2 linked regions of the Homo sapiens genome follow. The main gene of each other region encodes a partner of the protein of the gene in region 2 in a complex. Each region holds a gene or a part of one and is shown on either strand. Other genes may lie near its edges.

The links. The genes of interacting proteins can lie anywhere in the genome.
Region 1: THAP1 (region 2) and OGT share a complex: the UniProt entries of both Homo sapiens proteins name them as parts of the THAP1/THAP3-HCFC1-OGT complex.

The regions. Positions count from the first base shown.
Region 1 is NC_000023.11:71,549,558-71,557,103, reverse strand, and holds part of OGT (UDP-N-acetylglucosamine--peptide N-acetylglucosaminyltransferase 110 kDa subunit), read right to left. Parts: intron 2,592-7,546; coding exon 2,512-2,591; intron 1,915-2,511; coding exon 1,719-1,914; intron 1,151-1,718; coding exon 1,010-1,150; intron 425-1,009; coding exon 324-424; intron 153-323; coding exon 1-152. UniProt on the Homo sapiens protein: Catalyzes the transfer of a single N-acetylglucosamine from UDP-GlcNAc to a serine or threonine residue in cytoplasmic and nuclear proteins resulting in their modification with a beta-linked N-acetylglucosamine (O-GlcNAc).
Region 2 is NC_000008.11:42,839,867-42,847,869, forward strand, and holds the start of THAP1 (THAP domain-containing protein 1), read right to left. Parts: upstream 3,460-8,003; 5' UTR 3,229-3,459; coding exon 3,158-3,228; exon of another isoform or gene 3,068-3,157; intron 1-3,067. UniProt on the Homo sapiens protein: DNA-binding transcription regulator that regulates endothelial cell proliferation and G1/S cell-cycle progression.

The sequences.
Region 1 (7,546 bases), on a different chromosome or scaffold from region 2:
TATGAATGGAAGCCAGATTGCTATGTGCATCTGCAAATGCAGGATTAATTTGGATGGCACGCGTATAACACTGCAAGGCTCCCTGAACATCCTGCATCTCCTTTAGAGTGTTTCCCATATTAGAGTAGGCATCAGCAAAGGTAGGACTGATTCTAAAAGAGAAGCCAAAGGTTTTATTTCTCCAATACAAAAATCTTTAACCCACTGTAATGCTAACTTATTCCGTTGTTATTTAAAGCCATTTTAGCATCTGCAATGTGCCGAATGTCAAACATTTTAAAATTAAAAATAATTTTAAAAATAAGGCTGTTAGTGTCTCTTACCGAATAGCCTCCTTATAATGCATCAGAGCTTCCTGCAGTTTTCCCTGCTGCTGCAGTACACTTGCTAAATTTGAATGGGCAGCAGCAAACTCTGGGAAGACCTATAAAGAGTCAAGATCAGAACTGAGGTTAAAAAAATTGCTAAAGCAGCAGTAATAATTCACCACAACCTTAAGAACTTTGCTCAAGTACATTTAAACCCCTAAATTTGTCTCTACTTTTTCCAAGTCTATTCATTCTCAAATTCTACCTCTTCCTCTATTTTATACCTCTTCTTGTTTCAAACATAATGAGGTACACCTCTTCTCCTCTTAGTTTATCCTGACCACTCCAACACCACTGAAATCTCTCTCTGCTAAACTCCTACCACATCTACTAACCACTACCATACAGCCATCAGGCACTAAGATTATATACTTATAAGTAACTTCTCTTGAACTGTGGGTTAATGTTTAATTTTTTTGTACAGATCTTATCCACAGAATAATGAACTCTGAATGCAGGGATTTTCTGGAATGTCACATAGGGCCTCACATCATACCTTAGGTACTCAATTGTTACTTCAATGAATAATCCTCTTGTAAATGATTCAACCACTATTTTTACAAAAGAGGTGGATGATGGTAAACTTAACTGCTTTCCCTCTACTATCATGCTAAATGCCCAGCTACACCACCCTCACATACTTCTAATGCTTTACGATACAAGCGAACTGCCTCTTCAATGTTTCCCTGTTCTCGTTTGATATTGGCTAGGTTATTCAGAGAGTCTGCATGGGTGGGACACAGACGGAGAGCTGTATTATAACAATCTTCTGCTTCAGCAACCTAGAAAACAAAACAAAGTCTTCAAAAACTGTACAGAATCATAAAGCCTCCACTGATACTGTTCTAATAATTGTTTAATTAAGCCTAATGGCTGGTAATGCTACAGAAAATTGATATTTTTTGGTATTCTTACCCTCAACCAAAACTCTAAAGTAAACCAATATACCATCTCAATACTTGTACAAAAGACTTTCCTTTTTTGCTGTTTTTTGGTTTTTGTGATTTTTTTGAGACAGAGTCTCGTGCTCTGTTGCCCAGGCTGGAGTGCTGTGGCACAATCATGGCCCACTGCAGCCTCAACCTCCCAGGACTCAATCGATCCTCCCACCTCGGCCTCCCAAGGAGCTGGGACTACAGGTGTGTGCCACCATGCCCGGCTAATTTTTGTATTTCTTGTAGAGACAGGGTTTCGTCATGTTGCCTAGGCTGGTCTCGAAACCCTAAGCTCAAGCAATCCTCTGATCTCGGCCTCCCGAAGTGCTGGCATTACAAGTGTGAGCCACCACACCTGGCCAGAAAAGACTCTTAATCCTACCAGATAACAAATAGAATGAGTAAAAATCCTTACACTGCCCTTCTCTTTGAGAGCATTGGCTAGGTTGCAGTAAGCATCAGGGAAATGTGGTTGTAGTTCGATAGCCCGCCTGTAGGTGTCTATTGCCAGATCTATCAGGCCTTGCTCATAGTATACACAAGCCAGGTTGCCGTGCACCACTGCGTGATTTGGACTCAAACTTAGGGCACGAAGATAAGCTGCCACAGCTCTGTAAATAAACACACACACACACACACACACACACACACACACACACACACACAAAATGTAACTCATGCTTAATGGATGGTTTGTTACAACTCATTCAAGCTGTACTATATCAAAATATATCAAGTAATTGTAATTAATTACATAATTCATGCTGTATTATATTTTAACCTCAAACCAAAATCACACCTTTATAAAATGTGTCTTTACACTGGGAAGTTTTCTACTCCCACATAAAAAATAGGCTTTCCTTTGACAACAACAAAAAATTTAAAAGTCTGGATTTACTTTGCTTTCTAAAATCAGGTCAAAGGAATAATTTAGTCTAAGAAAGAATCATTTCAACCATTTTAACAATAAAAAAATTTCAACTAAACTCCCAATGAGAAGGATAACGGCTTTGAGGAAAGCCAACAACAAAAAGTCAGGCAACGAACAACATCTATAAATAAAAGGCAACACAGGACATGGGCAGAGAACAACGTGCTAGAAAAGGCAAATATGCTTCAATGGACTATTGTCATCATTTCGGTCCAAACTGTCAAGTGTCAATACAACAAAGATTCAAGAAAATTTATTAAACAGAACATTCTCTCACCTGTCAAAAATGCGTGCCTCTTTCAAGACATTTCCTAAATTGATATAAGCATCCAGAAAGTTTGGGTCAAGGGTGACAGCCTAAAAATTTCAAGACAGTTAGTTACTCAGAGCAAGTTAGGATTTCACCAGATCAACTTCCCAATTACAATTTTTTTACTCCAAGGTCCTTGCAGACTTTCAATTACATTTCATTTTAATAAACCAATTATTTATTTAGTGTCTTCTCATTATTTTTACAAACCTCAACATTATCAAAATAACTTCTCATGCCTCATGTTCTCATGAGCAAAATGGGTCCTGAAGAGAAAAATTAAATATTGGGCCTGCTCCAATTTCATTAAACTGAACACTTCTAATGATTGGCCCTATTTTATTCACAATTAACCAGTCTAACTCTTCTGAAAAATAGTGGCAAAAGAGGCAGCAAACTCTTACTGAAAAGGTAAATATATACCTCAGTTGTATGCATACAAACTACATGCTCAGCAAGACCTTATTAAGACATGCAATTAGAGCTGTATACACAGTAAGATACAATACTTCAAGGAAATACTAACCATTACACGGTGTCATCCAAATAGCTGTCATGTTGTCTAGAGCAGTGATTCTCAACCTTGGCAATATATTAAGAATTTACCTCCTAGAAAAGGTACCGAGGCTCTATCACAGGCCAGTTAAATCAGACCCTCTGAAGATAGGGTCAGGATATTCAGATCTTTTATAAGCTCCTCATGTATAACCAAGGAAGAGAAACACTGATCAAGAAAGATACTCCTACAGCATGGTAAATGCAAACTTCAATCAAAACACCGGCCAGGTGCAGTGGCTCACACATGTAATCCCAGTACTTTGGGAGGCCGAGGTCGGACCACTTGAGGTCAGGAGTTCAAGACCAGCCTGGCCAACATGGTGAAACCCCATCTCTACTAAAAATACAAAAATTACCTGGGCATGGTGATGTGCAACTGTAGTCCCAGCTACTCGAGAGGCTGAGGCATGAGAATGGCTTGAACCCGAGAGGCAGAGGTTACAGTGAGCCAAGATTGCGCCACTGCACTCCAGCCTGGGCAACAGAGCAAGACTGTGTCTCCAAAAACAAAAAACAAAAACAAAAAAAAACACACACACCGAAAAGGTATTTGATTAAGACACTGAGTAATTGTATGTTTATTAAAGACTGATAAAGAACACTTCATCTGCTGGGCGCGGTGGCTCATGCCTGTAATCCCAGCACTTTGGGAGGCCAAGGCGGGCAGATCACTTGAGGCCCGGAGTTCAAGACCACCCTGGCCAACATGGCGAAACCCCGTCTCTACTAAAAAATACAAAAAATTAGCCGGGCATGGTGGCTCACGCCTGTAATCCCAGCTACTCAGGAGGCCGAGGCAGGAGAATTGCTTGAACCTGGGAGGCGGAAGCTGCAGTGAGCTGAGATCGTGCCACTGCACTCCAGCCTGGGCGACAGAGCGAGACTCTGTCTCAAAAAAAAATAAAGAAAGAACACTTCATCTTCACTTAGATGACAACTCTGTAGTAAACACGGCATGATGCATTTAATTTAGATTGTCTATAGTGATAGATGTCCACCCCAAGAACTTTTAAACTTTATAATAGAAATGTTTAAACATATACAAAAGCAGAGGAACATTACGTCCAAGTCTCCATTATCCATTTTCAACAATTCATATATCATGTTTGATCTTATTTAATCTATACTCCAACTTACTCCCCCTCTTCGCAGATCATTTTGAAGCAAAGCCCAGACATATTCCATTCAAAAATACTTCAATATGTATCTCAGGGACAACACAAGAATGCTTTTTCCTCCCAACCTAACCACAATACCATTATCATACCTAACAGAAAAAAAAAAAAAAAAGACAGCAATTCCTTCATATTAAATATCAGCTGGGCGTGGTGGCTCATGCCTGTAATCCTAGCACTTTGAGAGGCCGAGGCAGGCAGACTGCCTGAGCTCAGGAGTTCAAGACCTGGGAACATGGCAAAGCCCTGTCTCCACTAAAAATACAAAAAGCTAGCCGGGCATGATGGCGCACGCCTGTAGTCCCACCTACTCCGGAGGCTGAGGCAAGTGAATCCCTTGAGCCTGGGAGGTGAAGGTTGCAGTGAGCCAAGATCACACCACTGCACTTCAGCCTGGGCGATCAAGTGAGACCCTGTCTCAAAAAAAAAAAAAAAAAAATCCATTCAGTGCTCCAATTTCTCATTAACTGAGTCAGGATCCAAATAAGACAGATATAATTTGTCAATGTGCCTCTCTGAGTTTCTTTTAATCCTTTAAAAGTTTGTGTGTTTATTTATTTATTTTTGGAGACGGAGTGTCACTCATTATTTATTTTTGGAGACGGAGTGTCACTCACTCTGTCGCCCAGGCTGGAGTGCAGTGGCACGATCTTGGCTCACCGCAACCTCCTCCTCCTCCCGGGTTCAGGCAATTCTCCTGCCTCAGCCTCCTAAGTAGCTGGGATTACAGGCACACGCCACCGCACCGCACCCAGCTGTTTTTTTTTTCTTTTGTATTTTGAGTAGAGATGGGGTTGCACCATGTTGGCCAGGCTGGTCTCGAACTCCTGACCTCAAGTGATCCACTCGCCTCAGCCTCCCAAAGTGCTGAGATTACAGGGGTGAGCTACCGCACCCGGCCTAAAAGTTTAATTTAAATCTCCATTTTTATTACAATTTGTTGAAGTAAGAAGGTCAGCTTCCCAAAGTTTGAATTTTGCTGACTGCATCCCTATGGTGTCCTTTAACATGTTTCCTGTCCCGTGTATATCTCCTGTAAATTGGTAGGTAGAACCAGAAGCTTAATTAGGTTTGTGTTCTTTTCTCTTTGTGCAAGACTACTTCACTGGTGAAATTGTTTACCACAAGGTACTTAATACCTGATTGTATCTCGTTTTTGTCACTGATAAATGCTTTAACTTTTTTTTTATTTTTTGAGATGGAGTCTTGCTCTGTCGCCCAGGCTGGAATGCAATGGTGCAATCTCAGCTCACTGCAACCTCCACCTCCCAGGTTCAAGAGATTCTCCTGCCTCCGCCTCCTGAGTAGCTGGGATTACAGGCTCCTGCTACCATGCCTGGCTAATTTTTGTATTTTTAGTAGAGATGGGGTTTTGCCATGTTGGCCAGGCTGGTCTCGAACTCCTGACCTCAGGTGATCCACCTGCCATGGCCTCCCGAAGTGCTGGGATTACAGGCGTGAGCCACCAAGCCCGGCCTAATAAATGCTTTCACTATTAATGGTGATATTCTATCATTCCTTCTTCACTTATTAGCTAGAATGCTTTTATAAAGAAAAGCTTCCCCCATCAACTATTGGGTTACTCTATGGTCTAGTTCATACAGGAGAGGGAAGACATATGCTTTATTCTTTTAATTTTTAAATTTAAAGTTGATATATAATTGTGTATATTTATGGCATACAATGTGATGGTTTGATCCACGTATACATTTTAGAAAGAGTCAACCAAGCTAATTAACATAGCCATCACCTCACTAACTTATTTTTTTGTGGTTGAGGACATTAAAAACCTATTCTTTTTGCAATTTTGAAATATACATTATTAACAACTGTGGTCACCATGCAGTACTACAGATCACTAAAACTTATTCCTCCAGTCTAACTGAAACTTTGATCAATATCTCCCTTTTCCCCATCCCTCCTCCACCCCCCCAAGCCTCACCACCCTTCTACTCTCTGTTTCTATGAAATCAACTTTTTTAGATTCCACAAATAGGTGACATAATACAGTATCTACTTTCTGTGCCTGGTTTATTTCACTTAGCATAAAGCACAGATAACAAAAGCAAAAATATGCAATGAGATTGCATCAAACTAAAAAGCTTCTGCACAGTAAAGGAAACAATTACACAGAGTGAATAGGCAACCCCGGATTAGGAGAAAGCATTTGCAAACTATACAACTGATAAAGGGTTAAGAAGCTCAACTCAGTAGCAAATACGCCCATTAAAATACGGGCAAAGGATCTAAACAGACATTTCTCAAAAGAAGAGGTACAGGCCAGACACAGTGGCTCATGTCTGTAATCCTATCACTTGGGGAGACCAAGGTGGGAGGATCACTTGAGCCCAGGAGTTCGAGGTTGCAGTGAGCTATTATGGCGCCACTGCACTCCAGCCTGGGCAACAGAGCAGGACCTCATCTCAAAAAAACAAAACAAAACAAAACAAAAAAAACAAATGGCAAGCAGATATATAAAAAATATGCTCAACATCACTAATCATCAAGGAAATGCAAAATAAAACCATGAGTTAGCATCTCACACTTGTTAGTATAGCTATCATCAAAAGGACGAATAATAACAAGTGTTAGTGAGGATGTAAAGAAAGGGAAGCCTTGTAACTGATGGGGGAAGTATAAATTGGCACAGCCATTTTGGGAACTAGTATAGAGGTTCCTCAAAAACTTTATTCTTCTCTTTTTAACCAGTTTTCCAAATTAATTGTTCCTTGTAAGTCTTCCAAAGATGACCAATGAATTTTTTAGCATAATTATAAGCTCATAGATTTAAACATACTTGATAAGTTTTAGTATATTTCAGTTATTATTCCTATTGATGCTCAAGTCTGCATCTTTAGCCAGTGGGAGCCTCCTCAAGTTGCTTCCTGAGTCCTTTTGATGCAAAGTAATATGTCAAAGCTTCCTTGCTTTCTGGTATGACAAGACATTCCAAAAATTTTTTTTAAATTCCTGCCCCAGACCTGGAATCTGCCTTTTCACCAAGAAGCCCTGCTTCTTTAAAGCCCATTTATAAAAATCATTTTTAATTACTAAAGTACATTTTTTTTGAGACAGGGTCTCACACCATCACCCAGGCTGGAGTGCAGTTGCATGATCACAGCTCACTGCAGACTCAAACTCCCATCTCAGCCTCCCCAGTAGCTGTGTGTGTGTCACCACGCATAGCTACTTTTTGTATTTTTTGTAGAGACAGGGTCTTACTATGTTGCCCAGGCTGGTCTCAAACTACTAGGCTCAAGCAATCCTCC
Region 2 (8,003 bases):
TTTATACTGAGTTCACCAAAAGATTCAGGTAAAATACATACTATAGAGTAAATGTGCCCACGGCTCATGCCTGTAATCCCAGCACTTGGGAGGCCACTGTCCGAGGGACTACTTAAGTCCAAGAGTTCGAGACTAGCCTGGGCAACACGGCAAAACCCTGTCTCTACAAAAGACACAAAAATTAGCTGGGCATGGTGGTATGTGCCCAGGTACTCAGGAGGCTGAGACTGAGGTGGAAGGACTGCTCGAGCCTGGGAGGTCAAGGCTGCGGTGAGCTGAGATCATTCCACTGCACTCCAGCCTGGGTGACAGAGCCATACCGTCTCAAAAAGAAAAAAATAACCTGTATTCATATTTTTTACCAGTAATTTTCTGTGTGCTGCACAGAGAGACAAAGATTGCACATTTGTATCTGCGTACTGGGAAAAAGGGGCTTCTAGTTCTCTTAGCATCAGTCTGACAAATATGAATAGGCTAAATTTGAATTAAAGGCAGATAATAACGAAAGAATTTATTTTCTAATCAACTGGGATGTCCATTAGGCCCAGGTAAACGGGGATAGTGAGAGTTTACATTTATTGTGGTAATTTTACTCTTCCAAGTTAAGAATTTGGTAAACTGGGGGGATTAGAAAGAAAAAGGGAAGGGAATTTCAAATTTATGTTTCACAGTCTCTCTTCCATGTACGATATGCTAGAGCCTGACTCTGCTAGTAAGAGATCTTTATGACAGTCCCTTTTCTTTGTACGACATAGCACTCTCCGCTGCCACTATGTAGAGGGTGGGAGAAGTGGTACTCCTAGAAAATCTCAGCTGGGGCTGGGCATGGCCTGTAATCAGGCCTGTAATCCCAGCACTTTGGGAGGCTGAGGAGGGCGGATCAGGAGGTCGAAGTATGGAGACCATCCTGGCCAACATGGTGAAACCCTGTCTCTACTAAAAATACAAAAATTAGCTGGGCGTGGTGGTGCACACCTGTAGTCCCAGCTACTTGGGAGGCTGAGGCAGGAGAATCACTTGAACTCGGGAGGCAGAGGTTGCACTGAGCTGAGATCGTGCCACTGCACTCTAGCCTGGTGACAGAGCAAGACTCCATCTCAAAAAAAAAAAAAAAAAAAAAAGAAAGAAAATCTCAACTGGAACGGCCTCTATAAGTATAAACTAGGGTAGCATTTGCTGGTAAAATTCAGTACCTATGGCCTCCTGGCTCTGTAAGTATAAACTATGGTAGCATTTGCTGGTAAAATTCAGTACCTAGGGCCTCCTGGCTCAAGGACAACAAATTTACAGCTGTTTGTGAGATTCTCTTAAGATCTTTCCCATCTACTCTCCCTAAACCTGCTATTTTAGATAAGGGATAAGATGCAGGTTAGCCCTTCTTTTGATTCAATCCATATCTGCTTAACATCTAGCAGAAACAGTTGTATCTTTTTTTTTTTTTTTTTTTTTTTTTGAGATGGAGTCTCACTCTGTTACCCAAGCTGGAGTGCAGGGCAAGATCTCAGCTCACTGCAACCTCCATATCCCAGGTTCAAGTGATTCCCCTACCTCAGCCTCCCAAGTAGCTAAGATTACAGGCGTACGCCTGTATTTTGTATTTTTAGTAGAGACGGGATTTTGCCATGTTGGCCAGGCTGGTCTCGAACTCCTGACGTCAGGTGATCCGCCCACCTTGGCCTCCCCAAGTGCTGGGAATTACAGGCATGAGCCATCGTGCCTCGACAAAAACAGTTATTTCCGACGTGTGAATACCCTCTTTAAACTAGTTTCCAGTGCCAATGAAACATTTTCCATAATTTTAGATTCCTTCTGCCAAGCCATCAGAAATGTGGGTGGGGAGCTGGGCATGTAATCCTGTTACCATCACCTGACCTTTCCCTACATTTAGAAAGAACATGTTTACAGAAATTCCAATTAAATCAAGAGATAATATTAGGATATCCTGAACTGAATCCTCTAAGTGTTCTATCCCCTTCTCCAAGGGGTAACATTATTACTCTGGAGACCTCTCTATGTTCTACACACTCTTATTTCTATAGGGTCCATCTCACATGATATCAAACATATTTAAAAAATGCATGGACACTCCCCTAGTAAACACAGATGGCCCCACAGCAAAAAAATAAATTAACTGAAAAGATATTTAACATTTTGCTTTTGTAATTATTTACCTAATTATAAAAGATAATTAGCTAATTACCTATGGCTAATCTGTATAGTTTACCCCTGGATCTGATTTCTTACCTATCATCTGCGTATAGCTGTCAGGAATTCTTGCAAAGAAAACTTAACATAAATGTAATTAAAATTTGTAAACAAATTCAGCTGAATGAAAATGTTATGTCACATTTTACAAGCGTTTATCATAAGTAATTACAACTCTGCACTTTTTTCCTATTTTCAAGAGAATATTTTTGATCCTATCACTTAACTGTGCTACCTACTGGATAAGACAGCTCTGAAAGCTGTGGGGCAGTTTCTTTCGAAAGAGCTTTCTCTATGCACAGGTAATGCCATAATAAATAAAGATCCGTGTGAGTCATTTTATTATGATCCATGTTGTAACTGTCCATATTATCATTATTGTGTGCTGAAAAGATAACGATTTATCTCGGCAGTACCTGAAGCTTTCTCCAAAATACAGGGTCCTTAAAGCTTAGTTCCTAGAGATTGGGGGCAAAAATTCTCCCTGATTTCCCAGCCAAAAAACCCTTAATTGCTACGATGCTGGCCTCCCATCCACGGCAAGGGCGAAAAGTAGTGATTTCTTCGTTTAAAGGCCTTTGTTTCTATTTTAAATTTACCCCTAAGACCATATTAAAACACCTGGCTGCTCTGTGACCCTGGTGGTGGCAAAACCCGCGCCACCCTAGGCATCGCCCGTGGGCTCCGAACGCGTCAACCCAGGCCGTGAGCGAAGCCTGCAACCAGGGCCTGTTCCAGGAGCGCGAGAAACGGCTGCCGCGGCGACGCGCGCCGAGAACGCGCGATCGGGCGGCGGTTCCCAGCGGGACGCGGTGGGAAACGCCCGACACGGCCGGCCCCAGACCCCACCCGCCCCTCGCGCGGACACGCGCCTGGCTCCGCCCCCGGCCCCGCCGGCCGCGCGCCCCCACCCCGGCTGAGACCGGCCCCGCGAGGCGCGCAGGGTCCTCACTTGTGGAAAGAAACGGGCTTGTCCTTGTCGTAGCGGTTCTTGCAGCCGTAGGCGGAGCAGGACTGCACCATCCTTCCGGTCCTCAGGCACTTCACTTCTGCCGCCGCAGAAGGCAGGGGAAGCTGTTCTCAGTGTCGCTGCGCTCGGTTGGATTCCCTCGCTTCTTTTGTAGCTTTGGCCAACAGTTACAGTGATGGTGGCCTCCCTCGGGGGTGACTAGTGTGCCCGTTTTGTTGTTTGCATTAGCAGAAGGACCACAGCCATCGCCCGTCTCCCATCTCCAAGATGGCGGAGGCAGCTTCAACCTCACCTCTCGCGAGGGGTGCGTCCCACTGTCTCTGATTAGCCCCGAGGTCAGAGGTAACGTTTCCTGGGAAGCTAACTATTGGCTGAGGCCAGGTGTTTCCGGCGGTGGCTTCAGAGTTGCCGAAGTGGGCGGAGCCCTGAGCTTCCGGCAGGCAGGAAGGAACTGCTTGTGGGGGGAGGAGGCGCGGCGGGAGGCCGGATTCCTGGGGCATCCTCCAGCCCCGGGCTGTTCCCGTGGGTTAATTGATGCGGACCTTTTCTGGGGCAGCTTACAGTAGGGAACAACTAGGGCCTCTTGGAGAACAGGTGTAAAGCCGAGGTCGTTGGCTGATTGCGCCCATTTCTTTAAAAGGGCGGACACAGATGGTGTATGATTAATAAAATTGTGGAACCTTTTCCCAGAGTGCTAATCTTTATCCCATTACCTGTGTCTTCAGGTATCACAAGTTTCTGTGAGAGCCAACGTGACAGATTTTTAGCAATGAAAAAAGACACACTCGCCAAATCATCTCAATTGCCAACGCAGAAGCGTTTTATATATATGTATGTATATGTATGTATATATGTGTGTATGTATATATGTGTGTGTGTATGTATATATATATATATATATGTAATTTTTTAAATAAATAGAGGCGTTGTCTCCCCACGTTGCCCAGGTCAGTCTGGAACTCGAGCTCAAGGGATCCTCCCATCTCGACCTCCCCATGGGTTGGGATTACAGGAGTTGAGCCACCAGGCTGTCCCTCCCCAGAAGCTTTTCTGAAGGCTCTCCATTGCTGTGATTTCCATGTGCTGTGTTGCAAATAGCGAACTGCTGCAGCAATTTTCACACCTGAGAGAGAATATGTTAGAGGGGTTCGAACTAGAGCGACTCTGTGTTGAGTGAGGGCTAGGAAAATGAGGCTGGGACTTGCTGGGCTGCATTCCCGGGAAGTTAGGTATTCCTAGCCTCTAGATGTGTATACCATTAAGGCAACAGATTGATAATGTTTACTACACAGACCCAGACTACCAAGTGTCCAGATATCCCGATATTTTGAGAACAGAAGCATTCCTAATTTTGCTTTAAAGATAATAATATTGGGCTGGGCACAGTGCCTCACGCCTGTAATCCCAGCACTTTGGAAGGCCGAGGCGGGCGGATCACTTGAGGTCAGGAGTTCAAGACTAGCCTGGTCAACATGGTGAAAACGTCTCTACTAAAAATACAAAAATTAACCGGGTGTGGTGGCACATGCCCTCGAATTTCAGCTACTCTGGAGGCTGAGGCAGGATAATCGCTTGAATCCGGGAGGCGGGGGTTGCAGTGAGCCGTGCTTGCACCACTGCACTCCAGCCTGGGCGACAGAGTAAGACTCTGTCTCATAAATAAAGATAATATCGATTCTTACATAATATAGTAATTAATCCTTTATCACAAACCCTTGTAGCAAAGCACATCTCCCCATGATCTTTTTTTATCCTATATATAAACTAAGTGTTGTACTTAGGGTGGACGCGTTCCTCCTCTTACTTTCGGGAATGCCCTACTCTGTCTGTGGAGTAGCTGTACTTTCACCACTTTACGTTCTTAATAAACTTGCTTTTGCTTTGTACTGTGGACTTGCCCTGAATTCTGTCTTGCGTGAGATCCAAGAACCCTGTCTTGGGGTCTGGATTGGGACCCCTTTCCTGTAACAGTTTTACTTCATTCCCTGCTCCTTTTCTTTATATAGATCTGAGCCAGGCAGACCTGGAGAGCGGACTGTTGAGTAATCCCTTGGCCCTTATTCTCTACCTTTCCTGCCCTTTTAAATGTTGCTGTTTCCCCAGGGTTCCATCTTCTGCCCTCCTCTAACTCCTAAACACCCTGCTCCTTAAACTGAACCAAATACCATAATTCTCTCATCTTTTATTTCCTTTGTATATCCGTTCTGCCTTTGGGATTATCATCTGTGAATTATCATCTGTGAATTATCTGTTCAACAGTTGTCTAAACCAGAAACCTTGGAGTCATCTTGGATTTTTTTTGTCACCCATAAAACCCGTTGATGACCAGGTTAATTTTGTAGACTAAATAAATAAATGCCCCTTAAATCCATCCCTCTTCATGTCTCCTCACTGTTGTTGTTGTTTTTTTTTTTGTTTTTTTTTTTGAGAGGGAGTCTCACTCTGTCGCTCAGTCTGGAGTGCAGTGGCACAATCTCAGTTCACTGCAACCTCCGCCTCCTGGGTTCAAGCGATTATCCCGCCTCAGCCTCCTAAGTAGCTGGGATTACAGGCACCCGCCACCATGCCTGGCTAATTTTTGTATTTTTGTAGAGATGGGGTTTCACCATGTTGGCCAGGCTGGACTCGAACTCCTGACCTCAGGTGATACGCCTGCCTCGGCCTCCCAAAGTGTTGGGATTACAGGCGTGAGCCACTGCGCCCAACCCTCACTGTTCTTTAATTATTTTTATTATTATATTTAACAGAGATGAGGTCTCACTGTGTTGCCCAGGCTGGTCTCAAACTCCTGGGTTTAAGCTATCTGTCAGCCAGGGCCTCCCAAAGTCCTGGGACTACAGGCGTGAGCCACGGCACCTGGCCTCCTCACTGTTCTTGACCAAGCTCTCATGGTCTTAACCTTGCAGCAACCCCTTAACTATCCTAGTCTCCAGTTTTACCTCTCTCCATTCTATCTTCTATAGAAGGGTGGTGCATGCCTGCCACGCCCTTGCTCATATCCTTCCAAGGCTACCTGCTGTACTGAATAAAATCCAAACTTCTTATGGTGAATTATAAAGCTCTTTAAGACCAAGTACTTCTACTCTTCCACCATCATCTCCCTCCACTTGTCTTTACCTTTGTTCCGGCTTTATGTCTTAGAGGGTAGGCTCTTTTGTGGTTTCTTTAAATAGGCTGTTTTCCTTGGCTTGAAATGCCCATCCCTGACCTGTCCACCCTTAAGATGTGGCTTAATGGCCTGGTGCAGTGGCTCACGCCTGTAATCCCAGCACTTTGGGAGGCTGAGGCGGGTGGATCACATGAGCCCAGGTGTTCAAGGCCAGCCTGGGCAACATAGTGAGACCCTGTCTCTACAAAAAAAATACAAAAATTAGCCAGGCATGTTGGCACACACCTGTAGTCCCAGATACTTGGGAGGCTGAGTTGAGAGGATTCCTTGAACCCAGAAGGTTGAGGCTGCAGTGAGCTGTGGTCATGCCTTTGTACTCCAGCCTGAGCAAACAGAATGAGACCCTGTCTCAAACAAGCAAACCAACAGTTACCATGAGCTGGGTGTCAGGGCTCAGGAGGCTGAGGCAGGGACTCAAGGCAGCCTGGACAGCAGAGTGAGACCCTGTTTCTAAAAAGTTGTTTTTAATTGGTCAGGTATGGTGGTGCATGCCTGTAGTTCCAGCTACTTGGGAGGCTGAGGCAAGGAGGATCCCTTGAGTCCAGGAGTCTGAGGCTGCTGGAGTGTGAGCTATGATCATGACAGTGAGATCCCATCTCTAAATTTTATACACATACACATACACACACAGATATGTATTGCTAAAAAAAAAAGCTAATGATCACCTGAGCCTTCAGCAAATGGTGATCTTTTTGTTGATGGAGAGTCTTGCCTTGATGTTGATGGCTGCTGACTGATCATGGTTGCTGAAGGTTGAGGTGGCTGTGGCAAGTTCTTAAAATGAGACAACAATGAAGTTTGCTGCATCGATTGACTCTTCCTTTCATTAAATATTTCTCTGTAGCAAGTAATGCTGTTTAATAGCATTTTGGTCACAGTAGAACTTCTTTAAGAATTGGAGTTAATCCTCTCAAACCCTGCCACTGCTTTATCAACTAGGTTTATTTAATATTCAAAATATTCTAAATCCGTTGTTGTCATTTCAACAATGTTCACAGCATCTTTGCCAGAAGTAGATTCCATCTTCATAAACTACTTTATTTGCTCATCTATAAGAAGCAACTCCTCATCTGTTCAAGTTTTATCATGAAATTGCAGCAACTCAGTCACATCTTCAGGATCCACTTTTAATTCTAGTTCTCTTGTTGTTTCTATCACACTTGCAGTGACTTCTTCCACCAAAGTCTTGAACAACTCAAAGCCATTCATGAGGGCTGGAGTCAATTTCTGCCAAACTCCTGTTAATGTTGATATTTTTCCTCCCATGAATTATTGATGTTCTTCAGGGCATCTAGAATGATGAATCCTTTCCAGAAGGTTTTCTACTGACTTTGCCCAGATCCATCAGAGGAGTCACTATCTATGGCAGCTATAGGCTTACAAAATTTATTTCATAGGTAATAAAACTTGGAAGTCAAAATACTCCTTGATTTATGGGGCTGCAGAATGGATGTTGTGTTACAGGCATGAAAACAACATTCATCTCCTTGTACATCTCCATTAGAGCTCTTGGGTGACCAGGTGCATTGTCAATGAGCAGTATTATTTTGAAAGGAATTTTTTTTTCTGAGCAGTAGGTGTAACAATGGACTTAAAATATTAAGTGAACCATGCTGTAAACAGATGTGCTGTCATCCAGGCTTTATTATTCCATTTATT